4 linked regions of the Homo sapiens genome follow. The protein of the gene in region 1 interacts with the protein of each later gene in a biochemical or structural test. Each region holds a gene or a part of one and is shown on either strand. Other genes may lie near its edges.

Evidence for each region.
Region 2: the proteins of GTF2F2 (region 1) and GTF2E1 form a complex in vitro, tested with the Homo sapiens proteins (2 studies listed by BioGRID).
Region 3: the proteins of GTF2F2 (region 1) and ATF4 form a complex in vitro, tested with the Homo sapiens proteins (one study listed by BioGRID).
Region 4: the proteins of GTF2F2 (region 1) and GTF2B form a complex in vitro, tested with the Homo sapiens proteins (2 studies listed by BioGRID and IntAct).

The regions. Positions count from the first base shown.
Region 1 is NC_000013.11:45,116,288-45,123,529, forward strand, and holds the start of GTF2F2 (general transcription factor IIF subunit 2), read left to right. Parts: upstream 1-4,222; 5' UTR 4,223-4,368; coding exon 4,369-4,434; intron 4,435-7,242. UniProt on the Homo sapiens protein: TFIIF is a general transcription initiation factor that binds to RNA polymerase II and helps to recruit it to the initiation complex in collaboration with TFIIB.
Region 2 is NC_000003.12:120,745,729-120,752,753, forward strand, and holds part of GTF2E1 (general transcription factor IIE subunit 1), read left to right. Parts: intron 1-4,794; 5' UTR 4,795-4,824; coding exon 4,825-5,272; intron 5,273-7,025.
Region 3 is NC_000022.11:39,516,000-39,523,208, forward strand, and holds ATF4 (cyclic AMP-dependent transcription factor ATF-4), read left to right. Parts: upstream 1-4,562; 5' UTR 4,563-4,752; exon of another isoform or gene 4,753-5,354; 5' UTR 5,355-5,446; coding exon 5,447-5,672; intron 5,673-5,773; coding exon 5,774-6,603; 3' UTR 6,604-6,684; downstream 6,685-7,209. UniProt on the Homo sapiens protein: Transcription factor that binds the cAMP response element (CRE) (consensus: 5'-GTGACGT[AC][AG]-3') and displays two biological functions, as regulator of metabolic and redox processes under normal cellular conditions, and as master transcription factor during integrated stress response (ISR).
Region 4 is NC_000001.11:88,860,568-88,867,592, reverse strand, and holds part of GTF2B (transcription initiation factor IIB), read left to right. Parts: intron 1-3,478; coding exon 3,479-3,612; intron 3,613-7,025. UniProt on the Homo sapiens protein: General transcription factor that plays a role in transcription initiation by RNA polymerase II (Pol II). Involved in the pre-initiation complex (PIC) formation and Pol II recruitment at promoter DNA.

The sequences.
Region 1 (7,242 bases):
ATCCCTACTAAAAATACAAGTTAGCCGGGCATGGTGGTGCATGCCTGTAGTTCCAGCTATTTCAGAGGCTGAGGCATGAGAATTGCTGGAACCTGGGAGGTGGAGGTTGCAATAAGCCAAGATAGTGCCACTACACTCCAGCCAGGGTGATAGAGCAAGACTCTGTCTCAAAAAAAAAAAAAAAAAAATAGTAAAAAGCTTGACTCCAAAGCTCATGCTCTCTCTCTATACTAAACAATATGGAAACTATTTTAGGAAGTATTTCTTTTTGTTTGTGTGTAACTGGGGAAACAAGGGATCTCCCAGGAATTTGGGCATTCTATGAAGGAGGGAACTGTTAGGGTTGAAGGGAAAGGCAGGGAGAATTCAGAGACGTTTTATAGCCTTGGTGTCATAACGAAGCAAAATTATCTACCTACTACATCACTGATGTCAGGGAAATTGAATGAATTACCACAATGCTGTATTCATTTGTAATTTTTGAATGACAATGTTTATGTTAGTAACCAATAGGTAATGAGTCTGGTCTATTAAGAAAGACCTGGTGGTAGCATTTTTTGCCTATATGAACTCTCCTGGAGGTAATACTTTTTCTTGCTAGAATGTTTCTGAGTAAGTGTGAACAAAGAAAATCTCTGGCCTGAAGAGATCAGGCCTGTGTATGATAGACAAGGACAAAATCTGAAAGTGAACTCAGCTATCTGTTAAAGTCATTCTAATTCCCTCAACTCACTTGTAACATCTCGCCTAATGGCTTTGCTGCTTATTCTCTAATAGCTACCTGATAGAATTGTGGTGTTCTGAATTAACAAGGCATGAGGGAATTCTAGCTGTAAGGCTTTCTGGTAAATTTTTTCACGTGTCTCAGACTTTGGAAACTGGCCCAGTTCTAATGAACTATATTGATTAGAAAAATATCGATTAGAATTCTATCGATTAGAACTCTATCATTTAGAACAATGATTCTCAGATTTTGGTGTGCCTAAGAAACACTCTGGGAGCTTGCTAAAAGTGTCAATTTCTAGACTCACATCCAGAAAGTCTAATTTTGTTTGCCTGGATTGGGGCTCAGGTGTCTTCATTTTAAAACACATTTCCCCCAGGTAATTCTAATGCAACTTGTACAGGAACCAGAGGCTGAGAACACTCATCTAGACTGAAGCATGTTTTGTGGTGGGTGTGGTGTTAGGGGTTTTTCTTGCTGCAGCTAGTCTGGAAGACACACAAAAAAGAACGTAGTTCTGCCTATTAAGCAGGTTGGGGCTGGGCATGGTAGCTCATGCCTGTAATCCCAGCATTTTGGGAGGCTGAGGTGGGTGGATTGCTTGAGCCCAGGAGTTCAAGAGCAGCCTGGGCAACATGGTGAAACCCCGTCTCTACAAAAAATACAAAAATTAGCTGGGTGTGGTAGTGTGCACCTGTAGTTCCAGCTACTTGGAAGGCTGAGGTGGGAGGATAGCTTGAGCCCGAAAGGTCAAGCTGTAGTGAGCTGTGATCATGTCATTGCACATTCCAGCCTGGGTGATAGAGCAAGACTCCGCCTAAAAACAAAAACAAAAACAAAAACAAAGCAGCAAAGAAGGTTGGGTGGCCTTGAGGTCTGACCTAGAATCTAAGCCCTAGATAAAGATGGAGGTTCAAGTTGGCCTAAGCACTACCAGACTTTTTGGAAAAATTGCAGCCAGCAATGAGTTCTTGGGCCCTCCTTCCTAGAATTGCATTTGCGCCTTAAAAATTTTGGTAACAACTTGACTAGTTAATCATCTGAGGGAGTAAAAAATTTTGGTGTTACCTTCTCTGGGGCACTGACTTCTGCATCCTATGCTCTGTGAGCCCCATCCTGGGATATGGTCTCAGCTCTTGGATGTTGATATGTTTAATGACATATAGGGCTATATTGAGGAAAAATAATACCTACTCTGGCAAATTGTTATAAGGATTAAATGGGATAATACAGAAAATAACTAGCTGAGGATCTGGCATATAATGAGTCCTTAGGAAGGTGAGGGATCTGCCTGTAGTATCTATCCACCTTAAGGGTCTCCACAGTAAATCTGTGAATTTGGTTCATAGGGGCCATGCCCTCCTTTTCTATCAGGGTTCTGTAAACATCCCTCTTCAAGCTAGAAGGGGTTTGAAAAGGACAGACAGGAGAAGCTTGCTCTTTGTTCAACAGCGTACGAGGAAGAGGTGCTCAATACGTTGTTTTTTTCTTTCTTCTATGTATCATTTTAAAATCTCCACTTTTCCGTTCTTCGCTAGCCCTTTCATCAGCCATTTTTTTTCTCTCTCAATCTCTGTGTACACACACATACACACATACCCACACCACGTACACATTTTAAGGCCTCCCATGACCCAGAGACCAAAGCCAGGGTTCCAATCTTTAAAGTCCATTCCTGGGGTGCTCTAGACTTTGCTTCTCTTCTCCCATGGTCTCATATTTCAATTTATTCCTTCTCCTTGATTAAAGTTTAGAGCAGTTCCCTTAATCTGCTTACTCTTTATATGTTTTAAAAAGGCCCTTTTCCAAGTTGTTGCACAAGAAGAAACCTTCATTTTCTGCTTAAAAAAATTTTTTTTTGTTTTTCTTTTTTTTTTAGAGATAGGGTTCTTCCTATGTTGACCAGGCTGGTCTCGAACTCCTAGCCTCAAGTGATCTTCCCATCTCGGTCTCCCAAAGTGTTGGGATTACAGGTGTGAGCCACTGCGCCTGGCCAAAAAAATTTTGTTTTTAGTATTTATTTTTTAGAGACAGGACCTTGCTCTGTCACCCAGGCTGGAGTGCATGGCACGATCATGACTTACTGTAGCCTTGAACTCCTGGGCAGACACAATCCTCCCACCTCAGTCTCCCAAAGTTAGGGTTACAGGGTTGAGCCACTGAGCCTAGCCTGAAACTTTCATCTTCAACACACTCCTGGTCTCTCCCATCTTTCCTATTAGTTTTCCTAGCTAAAAGCAGAGTTCTGACAGCTTTTCCTGGCCCTATGCTGAACACACATAAAATTTCCTCAATTTTGTGCAAGGCTCTGATGTGTGATTCAATAAATTACTTGCCATTCTTAACAATACCTTACTGTTTGTTTCTCTTCAGCGAATGTTCTTTCACCCAAAGCCTACTGAAACCTGACAATGTGTTAAACACTGTGCTAGACATTGTGGATATAAAATGAATAAAGCACTATTTTTTATTTGTCAATTATACCTCAATAAAGCTCTTTCCGCCTAGGAGGAGTTCATTGTCTGGAAAGCAAAGGCAGATATGTAAACATATATATTATAGTTCAGAGTGCTAAGTATCACACTGTGATGTGAAGAAAAACTAATTTCTTCTGGGGAAGTTGATAAAAGATCTCATAGGAAGTGACATTTTCATTGGTCTTGAACCATAAGTAGGAGTTTGCCAACCAGAGCACAGGGGTGAGAGTGAGGGCAGGGGTAAAATAGGGCTTCCAAGGGAAGGGAATCCAGTGTGCAGAGGCTCTGAAATGACCGACGAAGATTCTGACGTGTTTAGGGAAGTCTGCTGGGTTTGATGTGGTTTGGTGCATGGCGGAGTGATGGTGGGAGGTGCAAAGAGATGAAATTGAGAGGGCCCAGTTGAAGCAGGAGGATTGAACTTTATTCTAGAGGCAATAAGAGAAAGAGAAAACTGTTTAAGCAGGGGAGGAAACGATCAGGTTTGTCTCTTACTTGTTCGTTTCGTTACAGACTTCCGGGTTTTGGAAACTGAGGTGCTCCGCTTGCTTCATCAGAACAGCTCGGGTAGCCTCTGAGCTGAAACACGGCTTTTTTTTTTCCAGGTCTAGAAACGGCATGTTTTCAATATACCCAAGGCTACTAAGTTTGATCCCAGTGCCCATTTGTGCTAATGACGTTGGCCAGGGACGCCAATTTACTACCCTGACCCTGTCCTTCAAATATTGTCTCTCTCTCCTTGGCTAGGGTTGGACATGTTCTGACACCTTTCGTCTCTTTGAACCCCATTTTTCCGTTCTGATAATCTTTTTCTTCAGTTATGCTGACCATGTCTTTAAATACATTGCTAACGTTTTAGCTCATCCCACCCTACGTTTTAATCCCTCAGATGCAGACATCGCGGACAGCCACGCCCACTCAAGAAATTTCCGAAACAGAAAGTTTGTCTGCAACAGCGCGCCGTACTGACGTAGCAGTGCGCAGGCGCAGTCCCGGCTCCTGGCGGCGTGTTCCTCTTTTCCTCGGTTCCCAGTGTTCTGGCAGGTAAGGAACGCCGGCTCTTCGCCTCTCAGCGCGGCTTGTCCTTTGTTCCGGACGCCCGCTCCTCAGCCCTGCGGCTCCTGGGGTCGCTGCTGCATCCCGCACGCCTCCACCGGCTGCAGACCCATGGCCGAGCGCGGGGAACTCGACTTGACCGGCGCCAAACAGAACACAGGAGTGTGGCTAGTCAAGGTAATGTTCGCGAGTCTCCCACTTGCGCTCCTCCTAACACAAGTATAGTTTAAGTAACTTGAGCCTATCCCGCTCCGTGCGCCTCTTAAAGTTCTTTTACGGCTATCTCGTTAGAGCTTCACACATTTTGAGAGGCAGGAGTCATTGTTGTATCTGTTTGCAGACGAGGAATTAGTTTAGGGACGCAAAGTGTCTTTCAGCCAGTTACTACTCTGAATCTGCCTGGACTAGATCTCTTTCTCACGGCTTTCCTGGAATCTTGTCTTGGTGTCCCCAGATTTGGACGGTGCATTTTATCCCAGACTGAAGAATTCCTTGTATCTTCCCTTGGTGAAACTGGTTTTAGCCATGAGCCTGCGTGAGGTAGTTGAATGTCTACTTTCTGTACAGTTTTCTCGGCCAGAAAGTAGGACTGGTCCCTGCCTACTCTTAAAAGTGTTCTCTTAGGTTGATGGTCCTTAATGAAGCTCTCAAAAGAGGCGAGAGAGCCCCAAACTCACAGAAGGAGAGGTCATTGGACTGGAGTATTCTTTTAGAGCACATTTGGGTCTCGTGAAACTGGCCGTCAATAAACGTTTTATGTGAAGACAGCAATTTTGGTTAGCTCACAGTAAGCACTATTTGTGCTTTATTGTTTCATATTGGGGAGTGTTTTCTCCTAGGGGAGTTTCATAATACTTAAGCATATTCAAAATGTGATCCTGAAAGTCGTTGAAACTTAAAATGTAAGGACTTTTGGTTTCTTAATGCTTTAACTGTTTTATCACATGGCTGAGTTCTCGTCAATTAAATCTAAGAGGTCTTTCTTGTCGGCCTTCCTAAAACAGCCCCCTTGTGATCATTTGCTAACACGACAGATGTGTATTACATTCTTCAAAGCACTTTTCACAGTGTAGAGTGATTTTGTGTTCATATGTTCAAAGTTGGTTACCTCTGTCTTTCCAACACACAGAATCACATTCCATGAGAACAGGATCTTTGCCTGTCATACCCAGAATAGTGTTTGGCGCATGGTAATTACTCAACAAATAGATGATGAATAAATGCATGACCTCTCATTCTTCAGCCCTCGCCTTAGTCTGTGGCACTCATTTGACTTATTTCCAAACTCAGTGTGACTTAAAAGGATGGATTAAATAGGCATTTCTCTCTCCAGCAGCATGTTACTTGGGGGGAGAGTCACTAAGGAGGAGATTGCCCTTACGGACTGAAGGAAAAAGCTTGAAAAAATGGTGTGACTTGAGATGGTGCCATTGTCCTAGGAGCATGGTAAATGCTCAATGTTTGTCTTACAGGATTTGGATGGGTGGACACAGTGTATACCATGGGGAATGGAACAGAAATGCAAGACTCAAAATATATAATCAGCATGGCGTGTTGTGGAAAACAGAGAGAACCTAGAGCAGAAGATCTGTGTAGATGAAGATGGGGACCATATACTCAGATTGTCATATCATGAAACGGAGATATTCTAACTTTAGTTTACAAGGAAGTAACGAACTTTTTGGAGGATTTGAGTGAGGTAGAGATGCCAGATATTTATTCAGGAAAAAAAAAAATGTTTGGCAGTGTGCAGTACGAATTAGAGGGGAGGGTAACCAGAGTCACAATTAGAAAATTATCACAGGATCGGGCTGGGCATGGTGGCTCACGCCTGTAATCTCAGCACTTTGGGAGGCCGAGGTGGGTGGATCATGAGGTCAAGAGTTCGAGACCAGCCTGGCCAATATGGTGAAACCCCATCTCTACTAAAAATACAAAAATCAGCCAGTCATGGTGGTGTGCGCCTGTAGTCCCAGCTACTTGGGAGGCTGAGGCAGAAGAATCACTTGAAACCGGGAGACGGAGGTTGCAGTGAGCCGAGATTGCTCCGTTGCACTCCAGCCTGGGCAACAGAGCAAAAATTCCTTCTCAAAAAAATAAATAAATTAAAAAAAAGTGTAATTTGTTGCTTAGAAAGTGTATCTTCATTCTCATCTAATCAGAATTTGAATTGAAGTACATATTGATTTCAAGTTTTTTCTCCTTACATTAATTTTCCTATTAAAAATAATACCTTGAGTTCTGATCTTTGTTGCTAAATAATGTTTCTTCCTAGGATATCTCACGGTTTATAGATCATCTTGTACATATTTAATTCCATCACTAGACAGGTATAGAACTGTGTAAATACAGTAAGAACTATACATACAAGATCTCTGAGAGTTTTGAGCGGGAAAAAAATTAGTGCTTCACCAGAACTGGGAAGACATCATAAAGAAGGTGACGTTTAAGAAAAGCCTATTTGGAGGTTGCAGTGAGTCAAGATTGTGCCACTGCATGCACTCCTGCCTGGGCGACAGAGTGACATCCTGTCTCAAAAAAAAAAAATGGATGTGAGTGTGATCTGTCTGGGACATCTGTCACCCCATTGATTACTAGGGTTGATTTGGCTAATCTGGCTGGCTAGGCGGGTGTCTCCTTCCTCCCACACTGCTCCATGTATGTCCCTCCCGAAGCTGCACGCTTGACCAAAGAGGATGACCATCCGGATAGAGGAGGACTGGTCTTCAGTCAAGGGTATATGTATGGTTGTACTCCCCTGCTAGAACCTCCAAAGAAGCTTTCAAGAAGAGCTTATGGCAGGCCGGGTGCAGTGGCTGATGTCTGTAATCCCAGCACTTTGGGAGGACGAGGTGGGCGAATTGCTTGAGCCCAGGAATTTGAGACCAGCCTGGGCAATATAGCAAAACCCTTTATCTACAAAAACTATAAAAAGTTAGCTGGGCGTGGTGGTGTACGCTTGTAGTCCCAGCTACTTGAGAGGCT
Region 2 (7,025 bases), on another chromosome or scaffold:
TGAAGCCATATGTTGTGTTCTGACAACTGTTGAGGATGTAAAACAACAAAAAATGAAAACGGGGTTCAAGTACAATGTATAGACCAAACCGAAAAGGAGAGAAAAGTGTGTCCAGTAGTATGCTGTGGTACTACTTTGGTGTCGAGCCCAGGTACTTCCCAGGCATCCTTAAGCCCTGGGGTAGCAGGAAGGCTCTAAGTTCACAGATTTGGATCTAGGTGCTACTTTGTTATATCTTACAATATGTAGTCATACCTGAGTATTTATAACCTAAAGTACGTATTTTCTTTTGACTGACTTTTACTTTTCCTTTATTACAGGAAGGGCCTTATATTTTCCCCCCAAAATATATGCATAGATTGGTTATAGATTGGTGTATAGAGTTTCCTTATAGTATGGTACTGTGGATATAAAAATATTTCTTATAAAAAGAGTATTAAATCTGTTGGGTTGATAACCACTGATTTCAAATAAAAGGGTTAGTTGAAACTAGTATTAATAACAGAATATGATTCTCCATTGAAATAGTTCAATGGGATGTCTCTCTTAAAAATTATCCTGTGGAGCCTGGCTAAGATGGTGAAACCCTGTCTCTACTAAAAATTCAAAAATTAGACAGGCGTGGTGGTGCATGCCTATAGTCCCAGCAACTCAGGAGGCTGAGGCAGGAGGATTGCTTGAACCTGTGAGGCAGAAGTTGCAGTGAGCCGAGCTTGCGCCACTGCACTCCAGCCTAGGTGACAGATCGAGACCCTGTCTCCAAAAAAAAAAAAAATTATCCTGTGGGCTGGGTGTGGTGGCTCACATCTGTAATCCCAGCACTTTAGGAAGCCCCCAAGGTAGGTGGATCCCTTGAGCCCAGAAGTTCGAGACCAGCCTGGGCAAAATGGTGAAACCCTGTCACTACAAAAAACACAAAAATTAGTCAGTCATGGTGGTGTCCACCCGTAGTCTCAGCTACTGGGGAGTTTGAGGTGGGAAGATTGCTTGAGCCCAGGAGGTTGAGACTGCACTGAGCCAAGTCACACCACCGAACTCTAGTCTGGACAACAGAGCAAGACACTCTCTCTATGAAAAGAAAAACAAATTCCCTGTGGCCTAGGGAAATTTAACTTGATTTAATCTGTGTGGATAGTCTAGCCATTTTTAGTTTGGAACATGTTAAGTTGATATGGAAGCTGTCCTTCCTAAGCACTTTAATTATATTCTTATTAATCACAACAACTCCACTGAGGTAGTTGATACTATCCTTACTTCTTAGCGAGTAAAAGGTGGCTTGAAATTGTTTAAGGGATTTGCTCAGGATTACACAGTTACCAAAACACAGGCTGTGTACTCTGAATTTCAAAGCCCAGTTTTGTGTTGTTTTGTTTTTTTGTTTTGTTTTTTTTTGAGACTGAGTTTCGCTCTTGTTGCCCAGGCTGGAGTGCAATGGTGTAATCTTGGCTCACAGCAACCTCCACCTCCCGAAGCCCAGGTTTTTATTTTATTTTATTTTATTTTTTATTTTTATTATTTTTATTTTATTATTATTATACTTTAAGTTTTAGGGTACATGTGCACAATGTGCAGGTTAGTTACATATGTATACATGTGCCATGTTGGTGTGCTGCACCCATTAACTCGTAATTTAACATTAGGTATATCTCCTAATGCTATCCCTCCCCGCTCCCTCCTCCCCACAATAGGCCCCAGTGTGTGATGTTCGCCTTCCTGTGTCCATGTGTTCTCATTGTTCAATTCCCACCTATGAGTGAGATATATGCGGTGTTTGGTTTTTTGTTCTTGCGATAGTTTACTGAGAATGATGGTTTCCAATTTCATCCATGTCCCTACAAAGGACATGAACTCATCCTTTTTTATGGCTGCATAGTATTCCATGGTGTATATGTGCCACATTTTTTAATCCAGTCTATCCTTGTTGGACATTTGGGTTGGTTCCCAGTCTTTGCTATTGTGAGTAGTCCCGCAGTAAACATACGTGTGCATGTGTCTCTATAACAGCATGATTTATAGTCCTTTGGGTATATACCCAGTAATGGGATGGCTGGGTCAAATGGTATTTCTAGTTCTAGATCCCTGAGGAATCGCCACACTGACTTCCACAAGGGTTGAACTAGTTTATAGTCCCAACAACAGTGTAAAAGTCTGTTCCTATTTCTCCACATCCTCTCCAGCACCTGTTGTTTCCTGACTTTTTAATGATTGCCATTCTAACTGGTGTGAGATGGTATCTCATTGTGGTTTTGATTTGCATTTCTCTGATGGCCAGTGATGGTGAGCATTTTTTCATGTGTTTTTTGGCTGCATAAATGTCTTCTTTTGAGAAGTGTCTGTTCATGTCCTTCGCCCACTTTTTGATGGGGTTGTTTGTTTTTTTCTTGTAAATTTGTTTGAGTTCGTTATAGATTCTGGTTATTAGCCCTTTGTCAGATGAAAAGGTTGCAAAAATTTTCTCCCATTCTGTAGGTTGCCTGTTCACTCTGATGGTAGTTTCTTTTGCTGTGCAGAAGCTCTTTAGTTTAATTAGATCCCATTTGTCAATTTTGGCTTTTGTTGCCATTGCTTTTGGTGTTTTAGACATGAAGTCCTTGCCCATGCCTATGTCCTGAATGGTAATGCCTAGGTTTTCTTCTAGGGTTTTTATGGTTTTAGGTCTAACATTTAAGTCTTTAACCCGTCTTGAATTAATTTTTGTAAAAGGTGTAAGGAAGGGATCCAGTTTCAGCTTTCTCCATGTGGCTAGCCAGTTTTCCCAGCACCATTTATTAAATAGGGAATCCTTTCCCCATTGCTTGTTTTTCTCAGGTTTGTCAAAGATCAGATAGTTGTAGATATGCAGCGTTATTTCTGAGGGCTCTGTTGTGTTCCATTGGTCTATATCTCTGTTTTGGTACCAGTACCATGCTGTTTTGGTTACTGTAGCCTTGTAGTATAGTTTGAAGTCAGGTAGCGTGATGCCTCCAGCTTTGTCCTTTTGGCTTAGGATTGACTTGGCAGTGTGGGCTCTTTTTTGGTTCCATATGAACTTTAAAGTAGTTTTTTCCAATTCTGTGAAGAAAGTCATTGGTAGCTTCATGGGGATGGCATTGAATCTATAAATTACCTTGGGCAGTATGGCCATTTTCACGATATTGATTCTTCCTACCCATGAGCATGGAATGTTCTTCCATTTGTTTGTATCCTCTTTAAGTTCATTGAGCAGTGGTTTGTAGTTGTCCTTGAAGAGGTCCTTCACATCCCTTGTAAGTTGGATTCCTAGGTATTTTATTCTCTTTGAAGCAATTGTGAATGGGAGTTCACTCATGATTTGGCTCTCTTTTTGTCTGTTATTGGTGTATAAGAATGCTTGTGATTTTTGTACATTGATTTTGTGTCCTGAGACTTTTTGCTGAAGTTGCTTATCAGTTTAAGGAGATTTTGGGCTGAGACAATGGGGTTTTCTAGATATACAATCATGTCATCTGCAAACAGAGACAATTTGACTTCCTCTTTTCCTAATTGAATACCCTTTATTTCCTTCTCCTGCCTGATTGCCCTGGCCAGAACTTCCAACACTATGTTGAATAGGAGTGGTAAGAGAGGGCATCCCTGTCTTGTGCCAGTTTTCAAAGGGAATGCTTCCAGGTTTTGCCCATTCAGTATGATATTGGCTGTGGGTTTGTCATAGATAGCTCTTATTATTTTGAGATACGTCCCATCAATACCTAACTTATTGAGAGTTTTTAGCATGAAGAGTTGTTGAATTTTGTCAAAGGCCTTTTCTGCATCTATTGAGATAATCATGTGGTTTTTGTCTTTGGTTCTGTTTATATGCTGGATTACATTTATTGATTTGCGTATATTGAACCAGCCTTGCATCCCAGGGATGAAGCCCACTTGATCATGGTGGATAATAAGCTTTTTGATGTGCTGCTGGATTCGGTTTGCCAGTATTTTATTGAGGATTTTTGCATCAATGTTCATCAAGGATATTGGTCTAAAATTCTCCTTTTTGGTTGTGTCTCTGCCCGAAGCCCAGGTTTTTAAAGTAAACTATATGCCAATGTGGGCTTTGAGAAGACAGCTTTCTGGGTCATGGTACGGAAATGAGATACACTTAGTTTCTGCTTTGTCAAGGGATCCAGTATTTAAGAATATTTTGGGCTGCTCTCCCTCCCTCATTTTCTACCTTTTTAAGGACTGGATGGTCTTTCCTTGATTATCAGATTCAATTTTTCAAGGTTGGTAAAACTGTCTGGATCTAAGTATTACTTTCTTTCAGTTTTACAACAGTTAATGATTTTGTCAAACACCCCAGGTGGTGATTACTCATGTGTTTATTGGTTTGTTGTGATTTTATTGTGAAAGCATGACTATGTAAAACATCCTAGAATCTTGGTAGAAAAATTTTACTCAAGAAAGGAAACAAAGACACTTTTAGGAAATGCGAACTGCTAGTTTTCTCAGGGTTTCCAGCATTCCCAAAGAATAGTGAGCATTTCATGTAGCTTTTTTTGTGTTTCTCTTCTGAAGTAAAGTAGACTTGACGTAATATATTGTTTTATAAATAAAAAGTTACTTTTTAATCAAACACACTATAGATCATAAAAGTAGCCATTTAAGAAATATGTAAAGCTTTTTGGGTGTAATCTTTTGTGCATTCTAGAGGAAAATCTTGTTCTGCTCTGTTAAATGCTTAGGTATTAGAAATCTTTTTAAACACTTTGGGTACTTTTCTGGCACTGCAAGGATAGTGGATATGATTACCATGTTCTTATACCTGGCTAATTTTCTGTTTTTTTTTGAATTCAGTATATTTAAAGTTGGAGTTCGTTGCTAAAGATGGCAGACCCAGATGTCCTCACTGAAGTTCCAGCAGCATTGAAGCGGTTAGCCAAGTATGTGATCCGGGGATTTTATGGCATTGAGCATGCCTTGGCCTTGGACATCTTGATCAGGAACTCCTGTGTGAAAGAGGAGGATATGCTGGAGCTGCTCAAGTTTGATCGGAAGCAACTTCGATCAGTTTTGAATAATTTAAAGGGAGACAAGTTTATCAAATGCAGAATGAGGGTAGAGACTGCTGCAGACGGGAAAACCACTCGCCATAACTACTACTTCATCAATTATCGTACTCTTGTTAATGTGGTAAAATATAAACTGGACCACATGAGAAGAAGAATTGAGACCGATGAGAGAGATTCGACCAACCGGGCTTCCTTCAAATGTCCTGTCTGTAGTAGTACTTTCACAGACTTAGAAGCTAATCAGCTCTTTGATCCTATGACAGGTGAGGTTTATCCAGTTTGTGAATCTTTAAAATAAAGTGTGTATTACCTTTTTTCTTAAATTGATTCATCTAATTTTTAAACCATCATATATATTATTATAAAAGTGAATGGATCAGTGTAAATCACAGCATACAGTCAGTCTTACTGTCCTGTTTGGCTGTCGCACTACTTTGAGAAGCCTTTGCAAAGCGTTTCTCCTTTACAAGGGAGTTTCTCACTTATGGCCCTCCTGCCTCTGCCCACCCCACCTTGTTTACAACTGCAGCCTAATCTGAAGGGTTGATTTCTCTACCACTTTGAGGCTGTTCTAATTTTATTTTTGACCTCTAGACAGTTGCAATACAGTGTATTTAAATGCTTTGTTAGTGGAAGTAGAAAGTGGTATCAGGAGTATATAACTAGGGCATATAATCTGGATTTGGGGAAGGCCTCTGGAAGAAGTTAACATTTGAGACCTAAAAGATAGTAAGAGTTAGCTAGATGAAATAAGAGGGGAATTCTTTCCAAGATAAGACATTTAGTGTCCTTTAGATACACATTATTGTTGGAAGAAAATTGTCAACAAGATATATAATTGGCCTGATTTGATTGAATAGTTTTAAGGATTTTTCATAACACAATTTAGAAAGCATGCATTATCTGAAAATACAATATGTCTAGCATAAACATGAGAAACTTTAAAGTTCTGAGTTATATAGTTATTTTATCTTGTTATCTGTTTACACAATAAAAAAGAGACTAGTTTTGCTAAATACTCGATCAATTTTGTCTTATTTTCTACAGGTAAAAATCTATAGAAGGACTCAGTGCTATTAAATTAGATTAAGTCCCTTTGTTATGGTTGAATTCAGGAGTATAGGCTACTTTTTAGTTCATAGATCTGCTTTTTTAAAAACTTCGTCTGAAAGTTTAAACTTTGACCCATGAAATATTTGGTTGTGCAAAATTACAGATTTCTGTGTATGTTTTATTTTCTAATTTTTATGTTATATATGGTACATTTTAAATAATTAAAAAAAATTTTTAAGTGGGAAATAACCCCAATATAAATTAAGATTATTGACAAAAAGAGCCAGAAGCAATCTGTGACCTTTTTTTCTTATTTACTGTGAGGCAATGATTTTGGATGAAAACTGATTTAAGGAATTCACAATTGTATTAAACATTTAATTTGTCTGAGCCGAGCTTTTTACCTTGAAAGGGCTCCACAAGGAGAGATCTTGATTATAAGAAAGTCTTAACCATCCTCGGTATGAGAATTGCTTGAGTGTTCTATAGAGGAAGGTTGTAGAATATATCTGGAGCTCTTCAAAATAGACTAGAAAAGTCTCATGATTCTTGCCATTCACTCTAACAGATTTCTTACAGGAGCTCTGGGTTCTTGGTTTTGTAATTCTCTACAGATGTTGGTTTTAACAGTGGAGGCTTCATCACTCTTGACCACAGTAGAAGGTGTTATCCAGTCCCTTAGAGTAATCTAAAATAACATGCTTCTACTACATTTATTTGTCATTTGAGTCATATTAATTTAATTAAACTTTCTAAAAGGAGATGATTCCACTACTTATATATCAGTATTTGGGAGACTGATCATGATACTCTTGAATTTCACCTGGATTCTGAATGAAACTAGTTGACTCAATAGATGGCCTGTGGAAGAGATGGCCTAACATTCCATCCAGTACAGTCAAGGTGACTTGAATCAAGGAGTTAGGGTAGAGGGCATGAAAGTATTTTATGAAATAAAGCTAA
Region 3 (7,209 bases), on another chromosome or scaffold:
ATATTTAGAGGTCTTTTTGCCTCTTTTCCCCTTAACAAGGATTTCTTATGGTGGTTTCAGTTTCATTTGCATAAAGGTATTGAGAGGGAACAAAAAACATAAAGCTGAGAATCTTGAGAGAGCTCATCTACCCTGTCTGTTGGTCAGACTCAAATGAGAGTTAAAAAAAAAAAAAAAAATCTGTATGCCTGAGTACCATCCTGGATGAATCTAGAAGGTATGGGGTAGAGCTTGACAGGGTTCCTGTGTACCCACTGGGTATCCGTTAGAGGTAAGGGAGAGGAGAGGATTGATAGAGTGTTGCAAAAGTATAGATTATTCATTGAGATAAAGGATTTGGTTTCCCTGCCATGAGTATTAAAAAAATTTAAGTTTTCCCAAGCTTGCATCTCTGACCAAATTTCACATAAAACATTGGAAGGAGGCTGGGTGCGGTGGCTCATGCTTGTAATCCCAGCACTGGGAAGCTAAGGCGGGTGGATCACTTGAGGTCAGGAGTTCGAGACCAGCCTGGCCAACATGGTGAAACCCCGTCTCCACGAAAAAGATAAAAATAAGCTGGGCGTGGTGGCAGGCGCCTATAATCCCAGCTACTCGGGAGGCTGAGGCAGGAGAATAACTTAAACCCGGGAGGCGGAGGTTACAGTGAGCTGAGATCGTGCCACTGCACTCCAGCCTGGGTGACAGAGTGAGACCCTATTTCAAAAAAATAAAAATTGGAAGAAGAGCTTAAAAAAGATAAGATTTTAAAGAGTCCCAAGTTATTTAAGTTGAGTGTAATTGTCATTTAAGGAAGGCAAATGAGTTTATCATCCTTCTTAAAGAGCATCTCTTTTAACTGTTGGACAAAACCATAACTTTGTCATTTTACAAGGAAGAACCTCTTAAGAAGTCCTCAGAACCAGAAGCAATGTGAACTCTCAGCGCTGGTCCTGGTGGGTTTGCTGACCATGACTGGGCAAGCCGTTCTTTTTGCTGCCATCTTCCTCATCATAAAGTGTGGAACATAGGCAATTGCTTTGAGATTCTTGGATAGAAGAGGACAACATTCTGCACCTGCCCCCTTTTTTAAATCTTTGGGGAAAGATGAGTAACTTTCCCCACTACTCTGCCTTCCTGTTCAGTAACTCTTACTTTTGCCTGAAGTAACAGCATCTTCTACTTCTCCATCTAGAGATTTTTGTGTGTGTGCCATCAAGGTTAGCAAACTTTATACGTAGCCTAACACTTAAAAAATGCACTCATTATCTTAAACCTAATAAATTCCAGAGTTTATTTTGGTTCTCCTCTGTTGCCCTTCCTAAAAAATGAGCTGAAGATGACAGTATTTTTCTTTACATGCTTGGTTATGACTTTTAAAGTTTTATTTAAATAAATGTTGAAGCTCAAGTTTAAAGAAGCGTTGCAGAGGCCCACGGTCTCCTGGGTCCCGGCCACCTGTCCATATTCCACATTTGCTGACTGTGCTCCCTGCACTCCACTCAAGTTGAGAGTTCAAATAGTCTTGAAGGGGAATCAGCTTCAGGATGGAAGGACCCAGGAGAGGCCCCGAGGTGGGAGGGTTCTGTAAATACAGACTACTGCGAGTGTCCAGAGCTCTCTGCCATGATACTTCCTTGGGACTGACTTGGCTGAGAACGTGTTCTGTCAGAGGATTTGTTAGAACTCTGCCCTTTTGTCTGAAACTCAAGGCCAAGGAGAATGATAGGAGACTTAGGACAGAGCTGACCCTTGCACCAGGCTGGGAGGCTGCAGCCCTTTTAGATGCCACTTACTGTAAGTGGCCAGAATACCAGAGAGGTGGGTTCCATGGTCAAATGCACAGTAGGTGTTTACCTTTACATTTGGATCACCTTGTAGTCTTTAAATTCTTGGTCCCTGAGGCCAAGTCCACAACTTGCCTTCTAGTCACTTGCCTGCCCGCAGTGGTGGTGGATGTGTTAGCTGGTAGATTTGGAATCAGTCACCAGTCTTTCTGTACTGTCTTGGTTAGCTCTATATAAGTAGGGGCAGCTTAGCCCTGAGGCCCAGAGACCTGCTGTCCTTTTTCTCCTTGAGGGAGGAAATAAAACTGCGGAATACAATGTCCTTCCATAGCATGGGAAGAAGAAAATAAACATCTCCTTTCCAACAGCTGTGACTTGTGTGTGTCGTATAGAACATTTTCCTGTGGGAGTGGTACTGGGTCTCCATTTTCAGCTAGGGGAACCTTTGAAGTGTTTGAGCTAGGTCTCTATAAAAGAATGGATGGGACAGGCTGCCATGGGAGTCATTCTTTTATGACCTTTTCAGTGTCAAAATTGGGGCAGTGTTACTTTAATACTCAACCATTTGCACAGTCATCTGTCAGGAGGTACTGTCTATAGCAAAAGGAGAACACGTCCTGTGGGTCCCTAGTTCTGCCTTTGGAAGACATGGCTAATGGCTCAGGTATTCTTACTGCCTTTGCATGGAAAGGCTAGAAAACTCCTGTATTTTTTTTTTTTTTAAAGACAGGGTCTTGCTCTGTTGCCCAGGCTGAGTTGCAGTGTTGTGATCACAGCTCACTGCAGCTTGGAATTCCTGGGCTCAAGCAATCCTCCCACCTCGGCTTGAGTAGGTGGGGCTACAGGCTGGAGCCACTGCTCCTGGCGCCAACTTCTGTATATCTCAACACTCACGATTCCCCAAGGAGAAAGAAAAAACATACTTTTATTCCAGCATCCAGTATGCCTTGTGTATACCAGTTTTAAAGTTGTTGGTTTCATCTCATTAAATAATAATGAAGAGTCCTCTGAGGCAGCAGGAGGATGTGATGGAGAGTGGCAGAAGTCAGGGTCAGGAGACCTGAGTTCTATGAACAGTGGCAGCAACAGCAACCATTATTGGGCGCTTACATGTACCAGGCAGGCACTGTGCTAAGTGCTTTACATGTATGATCTCACTTCATGAGGCAAGGATACTCATCAGTAGTCTCATTTTACAAATGAGGAAACTGAGGCTCAGAGAGTATAAGTCATTTAGCCAAAATGTCCCAGCCAGGATTCTTTTGGATGCGCTCCCCAAAATCTGTCTTCTAACTCCTACCCCATACTCCCTCCACTGGGAGCCTTGTGACTTTGAGCAAGAAGCTTCATCCCATTGGGCCTCGGTTTACCATTGGAAAGGATTTGTGGGCGAGGTTGAATGAGCGCAGCAGATGGCCTGTGGTTATTTAGAGCAGTGCTTCCCTGGTTGTTTGATATCACAGCGCTCATACTTGTGTGGCCCAGTGAAATGGAGGCGGAAACTCAAAGTTTCCACCTTCACAGGGCCTGACTGGAAGGGGCTGAAGGATGATGGGGAGGTTTCTTGTATTCTTAAAACAGACTACCCCTTCCCAACGCACAACCCCCAGTAAGTGGCCGTGGGTTCCCAAGCGCCTCTCCTCCCTGGGCCATGGGCGTGACTGCTGAAAAGCGGGTTAGGCCGGGGAGTTCAGAATCCGGAGTGAATCCGAACTACCCCAGGGAGACGGCAGCGAAGAAAATCTTGTTCTTAGGAGAACGCAATCTTCGGACACCAGAAGTTCCTCTATGATGCTATTCTGTGGCAGCCTTGCACTTGAGCCGGATGAAAATTGTAAAAACCCAGGTTGGGCGACAGGACGGCGCGTCTTCCCGGCTCCTTTCCAGAGTTTAGGAGGAGCCATGCAGACTCAGCCGGCCTTTGGGGGTAGGTGGACAGGCCCGGCGCGCCCTCTCGAGGCCCCTTCAACCTCCCGGGGGCAGCAGCGCCGTGTCGGCTATGAATGGGGCCTCTGGAAAACTCAGGCTTGGAACAGGTAACCCCCCGGTTTCCGCAGGCCACAAATCACCACCCGCAACCGAAGGACGCGCAGGCTGGGAGCGGCGGCGGGGCCACCAGTGCGGACCTCCACTGAGGGCGGCGGGATCCGACCGCAAGGGCTGGTCCCTGAGGCCACTAAGGGGTGCGCTGGGCTAAGGCCGCCTGGGGGCAGGAGCCAGCGCGATCGTGGCGGGCCAGCAGGCGGGGCTGGCTGAGGACTAGCAGCGACCCGAGACCCCAACCCTTCCCACGCGGACCCCGGGATCCCTCTCCCAGCAGCCGCCCATCTAGGGCCCTGAGCCAATAAGAGCTCGAGATATATATGATTCACCGGGCCTGGGCCAATCACCTTGACGCGCGCTCTTCGCCAGCACCTCGCGCGATAACCTGGCGTCCTCGGCCTTCACAATAAAAACTCTTCGCCGGAAAACGACCTTTCCCCGCCCACTGCGCTGACACCGGAAGCGAGGCGTGTCTGGGAGATCACTCCGCGCTCCGGCGGCGAAGGAAAGAACGGACTCTGATCATAGAAGCCTAGTAAAGTAGTACACCTCTCTCCTTTCGTGAGGCCATAAGAACAAACTCCTTTTCTCGTCACAGCTACGCCCTGGGCATAAACGGTTGGGGCGTCAAAGGGAGGGAGGGAAGGGAGCGGGCGGGAGGAGACGGTCACGTGGTCGCGGCGGAAGGATGCGTCTGTGCTGCGTCCCCATAGAGACGAAGTCTATAAAGGGCCGGCGGGCGGCCACGGCAGCCATTTCTACTTTGCCCGCCCACAGATGTAGTTTTCTCTGCGCGTGTGCGTTTTCCCTCCTCCCCGCCCTCAGGGTCCACGGCCACCATGGCGTATTAGGGGCAGCAGTGCCTGCGGCAGCATTGGCCTTTGCAGCGGCGGCAGCAGCACCAGGCTCTGCAGCGGCAACCCCCAGCGGCTTAAGCCATGGCGTGAGTACCGGGGCGGGTCGTCCAGCTGTGCTCCTGGGGCCGGCGCGGGTTTTGGATTGGTGGGGTGCGGCCTGGGGCCAGGGCGGTGCCGCCAAGGGGGAAGCGATTTAACGAGCGCCCGGGACGCGTGGTCTTTGCTTGGGTGTCCCCGAGACGCTCGCGTGCCTGGGATCGGGAAAGCGTAGTCGGGTGCCCGGACTGCTTCCCCAGGAGCCCTACAGCCCTCGGACCCCGAGCCCCGCAAGGGTCCCAGGGGTCTTGGCTGTTGCCCCACGAAACGTGGCAGGAACCAAGATGGCGGCGGCAGGGCGGCGGCGCGGGCGTGAGTCAAGGGCGGGCGGTGGGCGGGGCGCGGCCGCCCTGGCCGTATTTGGACGTGGGGACGGAGCGCTTTCCTCTTGGCGGCCGGTGGAAGAATCCCCTGGTCTCCGTGAGCGTCCATTTTGTGGAACCTGAGTTGCAAGCAGGGAGGGGCAAATACAACTGCCCTGTTCCCGATTCTCTAGATGGCCGATCTAGAGAAGTCCCGCCTCATAAGTGGAAGGATGAAATTCTCAGAACAGCTAACCTCTAATGGGAGTTGGCTTCTGATTCTCATTCAGGCTTCTCACGGCATTCAGCAGCAGCGTTGCTGTAACCGACAAAGACACCTTCGAATTAAGCACATTCCTCGATTCCAGCAAAGCACCGCAACATGACCGAAATGAGCTTCCTGAGCAGCGAGGTGTTGGTGGGGGACTTGATGTCCCCCTTCGACCAGTCGGGTTTGGGGGCTGAAGAAAGCCTAGGTCTCTTAGATGATTACCTGGAGGTGGCCAAGCACTTCAAACCTCATGGGTTCTCCAGCGACAAGGCTAAGGCGGGCTCCTCCGAATGGCTGGCTGTGGATGGGTTGGTCAGTCCCTCCAACAACAGCAAGGGTGAGTGGGCCACCACCACATCGTCCTGGTGGGATCTAGGGTTAGGGGCCTCCTACCTTTGTATCTGACTCACTTGGCCCCATCACTCAAATGTTTTGCAGAGGATGCCTTCTCCGGGACAGATTGGATGTTGGAGAAAATGGATTTGAAGGAGTTCGACTTGGATGCCCTGTTGGGTATAGATGACCTGGAAACCATGCCAGATGACCTTCTGACCACGTTGGATGACACTTGTGATCTCTTTGCCCCCCTAGTCCAGGAGACTAATAAGCAGCCCCCCCAGACGGTGAACCCAATTGGCCATCTCCCAGAAAGTTTAACAAAACCCGACCAGGTTGCCCCCTTCACCTTCTTACAACCTCTTCCCCTTTCCCCAGGGGTCCTGTCCTCCACTCCAGATCATTCCTTTAGTTTAGAGCTGGGCAGTGAAGTGGATATCACTGAAGGAGATAGGAAGCCAGACTACACTGCTTACGTTGCCATGATCCCTCAGTGCATAAAGGAGGAAGACACCCCTTCAGATAATGATAGTGGCATCTGTATGAGCCCAGAGTCCTATCTGGGGTCTCCTCAGCACAGCCCCTCTACCAGGGGCTCTCCAAATAGGAGCCTCCCATCTCCAGGTGTTCTCTGTGGGTCTGCCCGTCCCAAACCTTACGATCCTCCTGGAGAGAAGATGGTAGCAGCAAAAGTAAAGGGTGAGAAACTGGATAAGAAGCTGAAAAAAATGGAGCAAAACAAGACAGCAGCCACTAGGTACCGCCAGAAGAAGAGGGCGGAGCAGGAGGCTCTTACTGGTGAGTGCAAAGAGCTGGAAAAGAAGAACGAGGCTCTAAAAGAGAGGGCGGATTCCCTGGCCAAGGAGATCCAGTACCTGAAAGATTTGATAGAAGAGGTCCGCAAGGCAAGGGGGAAGAAAAGGGTCCCCTAGTTGAGGATAGTCAGGAGCGTCAATGTGCTTGTACATAGAGTGCTGTAGCTGTGTGTTCCAATAAATTATTTTGTAGGGAAAGTACTTGTGCGTTTGAATTCCTTTCCTGGCAAAGTAACCGAGTGAAGCGCCACCCACCCACCCCAAGCTGGTCTTAACATTTCCTGTGAGATCTGGGGGAGGAGGCAGTCCAAGGCTGAAGATCGGTTCCCAGAGTGGGATTTGCTCATCCCTGCTCGGTGTAGGCCACGATGGCTGATTCATGGGGCCCTGGAGCCGTATAGTTGGCCATTTATAGTAAGCTGGGTCCTTTGCCCAGAGCTGAGTGCTGGTTGTGTAGGGGGAGGAGGCTGGAGATCTCTGGGAGATTCAGAGGGAGGGACAGCCTGGGCCTCCACCTGTTTATTCAAGAGGGCTTCATGCCAACAGCTGTCGCATAAAACCCTGAATAAGGTTGCACGGTCTTTGAGATAGCACACAAGATTAGGTTTCACTTGTTACCTGAACAGTTCTGCAGAAGCCTCATCCTGAAGAAAGAAATGGCTCCTTTTGGGAATTGATGCTGAAACAGGACAGGAGCTGAGGGTTGGCCTCCGTTTCTCCTTA
Region 4 (7,025 bases), on another chromosome or scaffold:
ATAAAAATATTGCAAGTTATTGATGACATTTGTTGATTTTTTTTAGCTTAAAATTTAGTAACTCTGGGTTTGAAGGCCACGGTTATTTTTGTTCTATGCATGTTTGTGTTTTTATTTTGCCAAATAGGAAAGTTAGATTGTCTTTTCTGTCTTTGGACATAAGTGCATGGGAACACCATGGTATCACTTTAATTGGTGGATGCTATTAAAGGGACTAAATTCTGTCTAAAAATACCATGCTGGTGTTTATGATAAATTTAATGAAAAGAGCTTGTCATGAAACAGGCACAGTATCTAAATTTTAGGAAAACGTAGGTGCATACATATGAACGAAAAACACAGAGCATATATGAAAATATAGTGGTCATTGGGTATTGGGAATGCAGGTAATTTTTTTCTAACGTATCTTTTAGTGAGCAAATATTTTGTAAAAAGGAAGAAAAATTGATCTCTTTAGTGTGATCTCTTTGAGACATGGGCTTGTTGGTGAATAGTACTCACTGCACAGTGGTTTGGTAAGGTTTCAGTGCACAATGACAATTTATGATACTTTTAAGTATCTTTTTAAAATCTGCATAATTCAAACTGCTTCCTAAGTTTAGTGATGTTTATTATGAGGAAGAGGAAACAGATAAATCCTTGTAATGCCATCCATCTAACGCTTTTCTCCTTGTTTCGGGCCACCTGCTCAATGTGTGATGTATTAAAATTGCCTTCTAACTTACTGTCCTGCTTCTGCCTTCCTTGCGTGTTCTCCTTGCATACAGGGATGGCACATGGGAACTCTGCCTCTAATCTCAATCCCTTTGTAATGTGGACACATGGTAGTCCAACTGATAATCCGCTTTTACCTTGGTGATTCAGTTGTTTAAAGAAAAGTTTTTCTGTTGTGCATGGTGGCCCACCCCTGTAATCCCAGCACTTGGGGAGGCCGAGGTGAGTGGATCACTTGAGCCTAGGGGTTCACGACTAGCCTGGGCAACATGGCAAAACCCCATCTCTACAAGAAATACAAAAATTAGCCAGGCAGGCAGTGGTGGTGCATATCTGTAGCTGCTCAGGAGGCTAAGGTGGAAGTATTGCTTGAGCCCCAGAGGCAAAAGCTGCAGTGAGCCAAAATTGCACCACTGTACTCAAACCTGGGCAACAGAGTGAGACCCTGTCTGAAAAAAAGGAAAAGAAAAAAGAAAAATTTTGTCAGAGGCTTCAGAAATGAATCATTCTCTTGAGCATTTGCTTACTTTAGACAGGGTCTCCCTCACCTAGGCTGGAGTGCAGTGGTGTAATCATGGCTCCCTGCAGCCTCAACCTCCTGGGCTCAGGTGATCCTCCCACCTCAGCCTCCCTACAGGCACATGCCACCACGCCCAGCTAATTTGTTTTTGTATTTTTTTGTAGAGACAGGGTTTCACCATGTTGCCCAGGCTGGTCTTGAACTCCTGGGCTCATGTGATTTTCCTGCTTAAGCCTCCCAAAGTGCTAAGATTACAGGTGTGAACCACCATGCCCAGCCTTTTTTTAAATCTATCACTAAGATTATATGATCACTATACTCTGGTTGTTTATGAGCATTTAAATTAATTTTTATATAAAAAATTAAAAAGTTAGCATAGTCTAGGTGGAATTCCTTCCGTTTTCTCTGTTCTTTGCTGTCCTCCTGATCAAATACTTAGCGGAGCACTTGGAAGCTTTTAAAGTCTTCTATGGAGATTAATTTTTGTTTGTTTGTTTGTTTTGTTTTGTTTTTTTTTTGAGATGGAGTTTCACTCTTGTTACCCTCTTGTTGCGATCTCAGTTCACCACAGCCTCCACCTCCCAGGTTCAAGCAGTTCTCCTGCCTTAGCCTCCTGAGTAGCTGGGATTACAGGCATGTGCCACCACGCCCAGCTATTTTGTATTTTTAGTAGAGACAGGGTTTCTCCATGTTGGTCAGGCTGATCTCAAATTCCCAACCAGGTGACAGCCCGCCTGGACCTCGCAAAGTGCTGGGATTACAGGCATGTGCCACCATGACCAACTAATTTTGTATTTTTAGTAGAGACGGGGTTTCTCCATCTTGGTCAGGCTGGTCTCAAACTCCTGACCTCAGGTGATCCGCCTGCCTCGGCCTCCCAAAGTGCTGGGATTACAGGCCTGAGCCACCACACCCGGCTGGAGATTAATGTTTTAAACTGATGCGTCTCCCTTATCATCCCCACAAAAAAGGAGAAACTCAGAATATTTGCTATCTTTCTAATTTTCATAGCAGTAAATAGTGAATATTGAGCACTTAGTACTACTTTTTAAGCACTTTACATGCACTGTACATGGGTATTATAATAGCTTAGTCTTTATAATCTTTAAAATATGAGGTTAAAGAGAATTTTAGAGCTGAGGTAATAAAGACATAGAAATGAAGTAATATTCCAAGGCTAAGCAGCAAAGGGCAGAGTTCACACCCCTGACTATTATATTAATTGACTGCTAGTACCGTAACTTCTAATTGCTACAGTAACTGGTTTCTGCCGTTTGTTTCTTTCTGTTTGCTGTGTATACACAAAGATGAAATGGTCTGGTTCCTTCCTACTTTCAGCTTCATCACACTTCACTGAAAAAGGTCATGTTTTACAATTGGAGTGTAGAACAAACTCTGATGTGCGTTTCAGTTCTAGCTATGTGATCTTAGGCTAGTTAATCTTATTTGTAAAGTGGCAATAAAATTGGTACCTACCTTTATAAGGCTGTGAAGATTAAGTGAGAACATTTACAAAAGGGCACAGTGAGTAGTATGTGTTAAGTATTCAGTGTTAACTTTTGTCTACTCTGAAGGTATTGCCAGACATTGAGCTTTCTCACCAAAACAGTAATAATAAGGTTTACTTGTGTCTGCTTTTATTGGACATGATATATTTAGATGCTGCCTCTTTGCTTAAAGAGAAAAGTTTGCCTACCAGGCTTTCTTCTCACGGATTCTAGGCTTGAGGTTTATTCTGTATAAATTATTTGGCCAGGTATGTTTTTCATCAGATTGTTACTTTGAAACAGAAGCTTAGGCTTATTTTCTGCGAAGCATTTCCCACGCAAACTTAGTGACATTTTAATATGAAATTATTTGCATTAATACCATTCTAAAAAATGTTTTCTCTTTTTTTCCCATGCCTATTGCAAATTTTGTGCAAAATCTGGTTCTTAATCATTATTACATTGGTTTACCTTTGCATCACATATGAATAGCTGTACTTTGCTACTTTTGACTAATACTTTTTCTTCCAAGAGTTAGAATATCATAGCATAATGTTTCAAGAGGATTATTGTTAGATTGGCACAATAGTTAAAGGAATGCTTTAGGACAAATGTCTGAAATGTGATATTTAAGCTTGGTCCTAGATGTCCATGTTGAGATTTCCTGGGAATAAAATGGCTTAGTTGGGCATTGGACAGTGTAGTTAAGTAAACCCTATCTTGACAAAATGATTCAGATATGTGCTTATATTCTTAGGTGACCGGGTTATTGATGTGGGATCTGAATGGCGAACTTTCAGCAATGACAAAGCAACAAAAGATCCATCTCGAGTTGGAGATTCTCAGAATCCTCTTCTGAGTGATGGAGATTTGTCTACCATGATTGGCAAGGTAATAAGTCCATTTGGCAGGAAATACCAATTGCAGAGTGACCATAGACCTGAGAGTTTGGGAACTTTGCAAAAGTATCAGTCACTGCACCAGTGGGGAATCTTGACCTGTCTAATAAGATTTGCCAGTAATATCATTGTGAATGATGGCTAACTTGTGTGTGTATTCCATCTTAAAGTGGGGAAGACCATTAAATCAAAATTATAAAGCCTTTATATCAGGCCTTTTTTCATAAATGACATTTTCTGTACACACAAAAAATGAGTGTAGTGTGGCCTTCATGAGTTAATATTGATATGTTCTTTGAATATCAAGAATGTCTTCTCAGCTGGGCATCATGGCTCACACCTGTGATCCCAGCACTTTGGGAGGCCAAGGCAGGCGGATCACAAGGTCAGGAGTTCGGGACCAGCCTGGCAAATATGGTGAAACCCCATCTCTACTACAAAAAAAAAGGAAAATAGAAAAATTAGCCAGGCTTGGTGGCGGGCACCTGTAGTCCCAGCTTACTCGCGAGGCTGAGGCAGAAGAATTGCTTGAACCCAGGAGGCGGAGGTTGCAGTGAGCCAAGATCGCGCCACTGAACTCCAGCCTGGGCAACAGAGTGAGACTCTGTCTCAAAAAAAAAGAAAAGAATGTCTTCTCTTTTCTCTCTATACCACTTAAGATAAATGGGAGGTTAGTGTAACCTCTTTTCTGATATTAGTGAATTTATGACTTACCTAACTTTACATTCCTTATCTGTAAAATGAGAATAAGAGTACTTATAGAGTTTTTGAGGGTTTCATGAGAATGTATGTAAAGTATTTATATAACATGTATTGTATACTGTGTGCTCAGTCAGTGGTAGCTGCTATCATTGTGTAAGGCAATAGTATAGTTTTCTTGGCAGCCTGATTCTCACTCTGTTATCCGAGTTGGAAGTAATAGTGACGGTATTACTGAGGGCTAATCAAGGAAGTATACACCATTTTATAACTTCATGTATACTATTGCATAGTCTCTTTTTTTTTTTTTTCCAAAAAAGTCTTGTTTAAAATCTGTCTGGCTGGGCACAGTGGCTCATGCCTGTAATCCCAGCACTTTGGGAGGCCGAGGTGGGTGGAGATCAGGAGTTCAAGACCAGCCTGGCCAAGATGGCGAAACCCCGTCTCTACTAAAAATACAAAAAGTAGCTGGGCATGATATGATGGTGGGCACCTGTAATCCCAGCTACTCAGGAGCCTGAGGCAAATAATTGCTTGAACCCGGGAGGCGGAGGTTGCAGTGAGCTGAGATCGCGCGACTGCACTCCAGCCTGGGCAACAGAGTGACACTCTTGTCCAGGCAGGTCTTGAACTCCTGGTCTTCAGCAGTCCTCCCGCCTCAGGCACCCAAAGTGCTGGGATTACAGGCATGAGTTTACCATGCCGAACCCTGTATAGTCTGTTTTGTTTTTGAGACGTTCTAACACTGTCGCTAAGGTGGGAGTGCAGCAGTAGCTTGATCTCGTCTCACTGCAACCTCCACCTCCCAGGCTGAAGCGATCCTTCCACTTCAGCCTCCCAAGTAACTGGGACCACAGGTGTGGGCCACGACACATGGCTAATTTTTGTATTTTTTGTAGAGACAAAGTTTCGCCATGTTGCCCAGGCTTGTCCCAATTCTTGGGCTCAAGTGATCCACCCACCTCGGCCTCCCAAGGTGCTGGAATTACAGGTGTGATCCACCATCCCTGGGCAAGATAGAAATATTTTTAAGCTGCTAGATTTATCACATAATAAATTTCTATGTGTACTTGGGCATATTTCTCAACTTTCTATCTTTTCCTGTCCTGGTCCAGTTAGTCAAATGCCATACAACACTGTTTTAGTATTTAGTAGCACTAGTTTTCCCTCATTGCTCTTTTTCAGCATTTTCTTCGCTAGTCTTTTCCATTTAAAGGTTAAGTTTGTTTCATTTTTTAAAAAAATTTAGGTTTGTTCACTTGCATTTTTTGTACCTTTGGAGTTGATTAAATGATTTTCCTCTTCAGCTCTATTAATATGATGTTTTATGTTATTAGATTCTTTAATATATTTGTGGAACAGTCTCCACTTGGTTGATATTACTGCCTTTTAATACCCTGTTGGATTCTGTTTCCTGTGGGGTTTTTTGGTTTTCTTCTTTTGAGACAGGGTCTCTTTCTGTCACCCAGTCTAGAGTGAAGTGATGTAATCATAGCTAACTGCAGCCTCAAACTCCCAGGCTTAGGTAACCCTCCTGCCTCAGCCTCCTGAGTAGCTGAGACCACAGGCGTGTGCCATCACACTCGGCCTGTTTTGTTTTGTTTTGTTTGAGACAGAGTTTCGCGCTTGTCACCCAGGCTGGAGTGCAATGGCACGATCTCTGCTCACTGCAACCTCCGCCTCCCAGGTTCAAGCGATTCTCCCGCCTCAGCCTCCCAAGCAGCTGGGATTGCAGGCATGTGCCACCACGCCTGGCTAATTTTGTACTTTTAGTAGAGGTAGGGTTTCTCCGTGATCATCAGGCTGGTCTCACACTCCCGACCTCAGGTGATCCGCCTGCCTCAGCCTCCTAAAGTGCCAGGATTACAGGCATGGGCCACTGCGCCTGGCCTGTTTTTTAATATTTAATATTCTCACTGGGGTTTTGGTCAGATTCATTTGCAAATTGACACAGGGAAAATTGGCTTCTTCATAATAAATCTTGTATTCAAAAATTCATAATGCCTTTCCATTTCCTTAGGTATCTTATGTGTCCTTCAGGAGATGTTTGAAAGTTTTCTTCATGAACGTCTCACATGTTTCTCAAGTTTATTTCAAGATTTTTGTTGTTGTTTTAATTGAAAAATTTGCTTTCCTTGTCTTTTAAGTTGGTTGATTGTACTTATGAAGGGTATTGATTTCTATTTATCTTGACCTTGCTGCTTTAATGAATTATTTATAGCAGCTGTTTTTTAGTGATTTTCTTGCATATTCCAGGTGTATAAAGGTACTATCTGCAAATAGTTTATCACATCCTTTCCAATTTTGTACTTCCGGTTTTTCTCTTGCTTAATACTATTGGCTAGTTTTTCCAATCAGTGTTACAAAATGGTAGCAGTAGGAGGTACCTTTGTCTTGTGATTTTGGTGATAATGCTGGTAATGTTTCTCCATTAATCATAGTACTTTCTTTGGGCAGAGGAGAGTGGTTTTCTAATGTAAAGAAGTACTCATTTGTAGCGTCCTATGAGTTTTTATCAAAGACGAATTTTGATTTTGTTCATTTGCCTTTTTAGCGTCTTTGGAGATGATCATGATTTTTCTTCTTACATCTATTAATATAATGTTTTACATTATTTGATTCTCTAATATCTTGTGGAACAATCTCTAGTTGGTCATGATATACTACCTTTTAATATGCTGTTGGATTCTGTTTTCTAGTATTTAA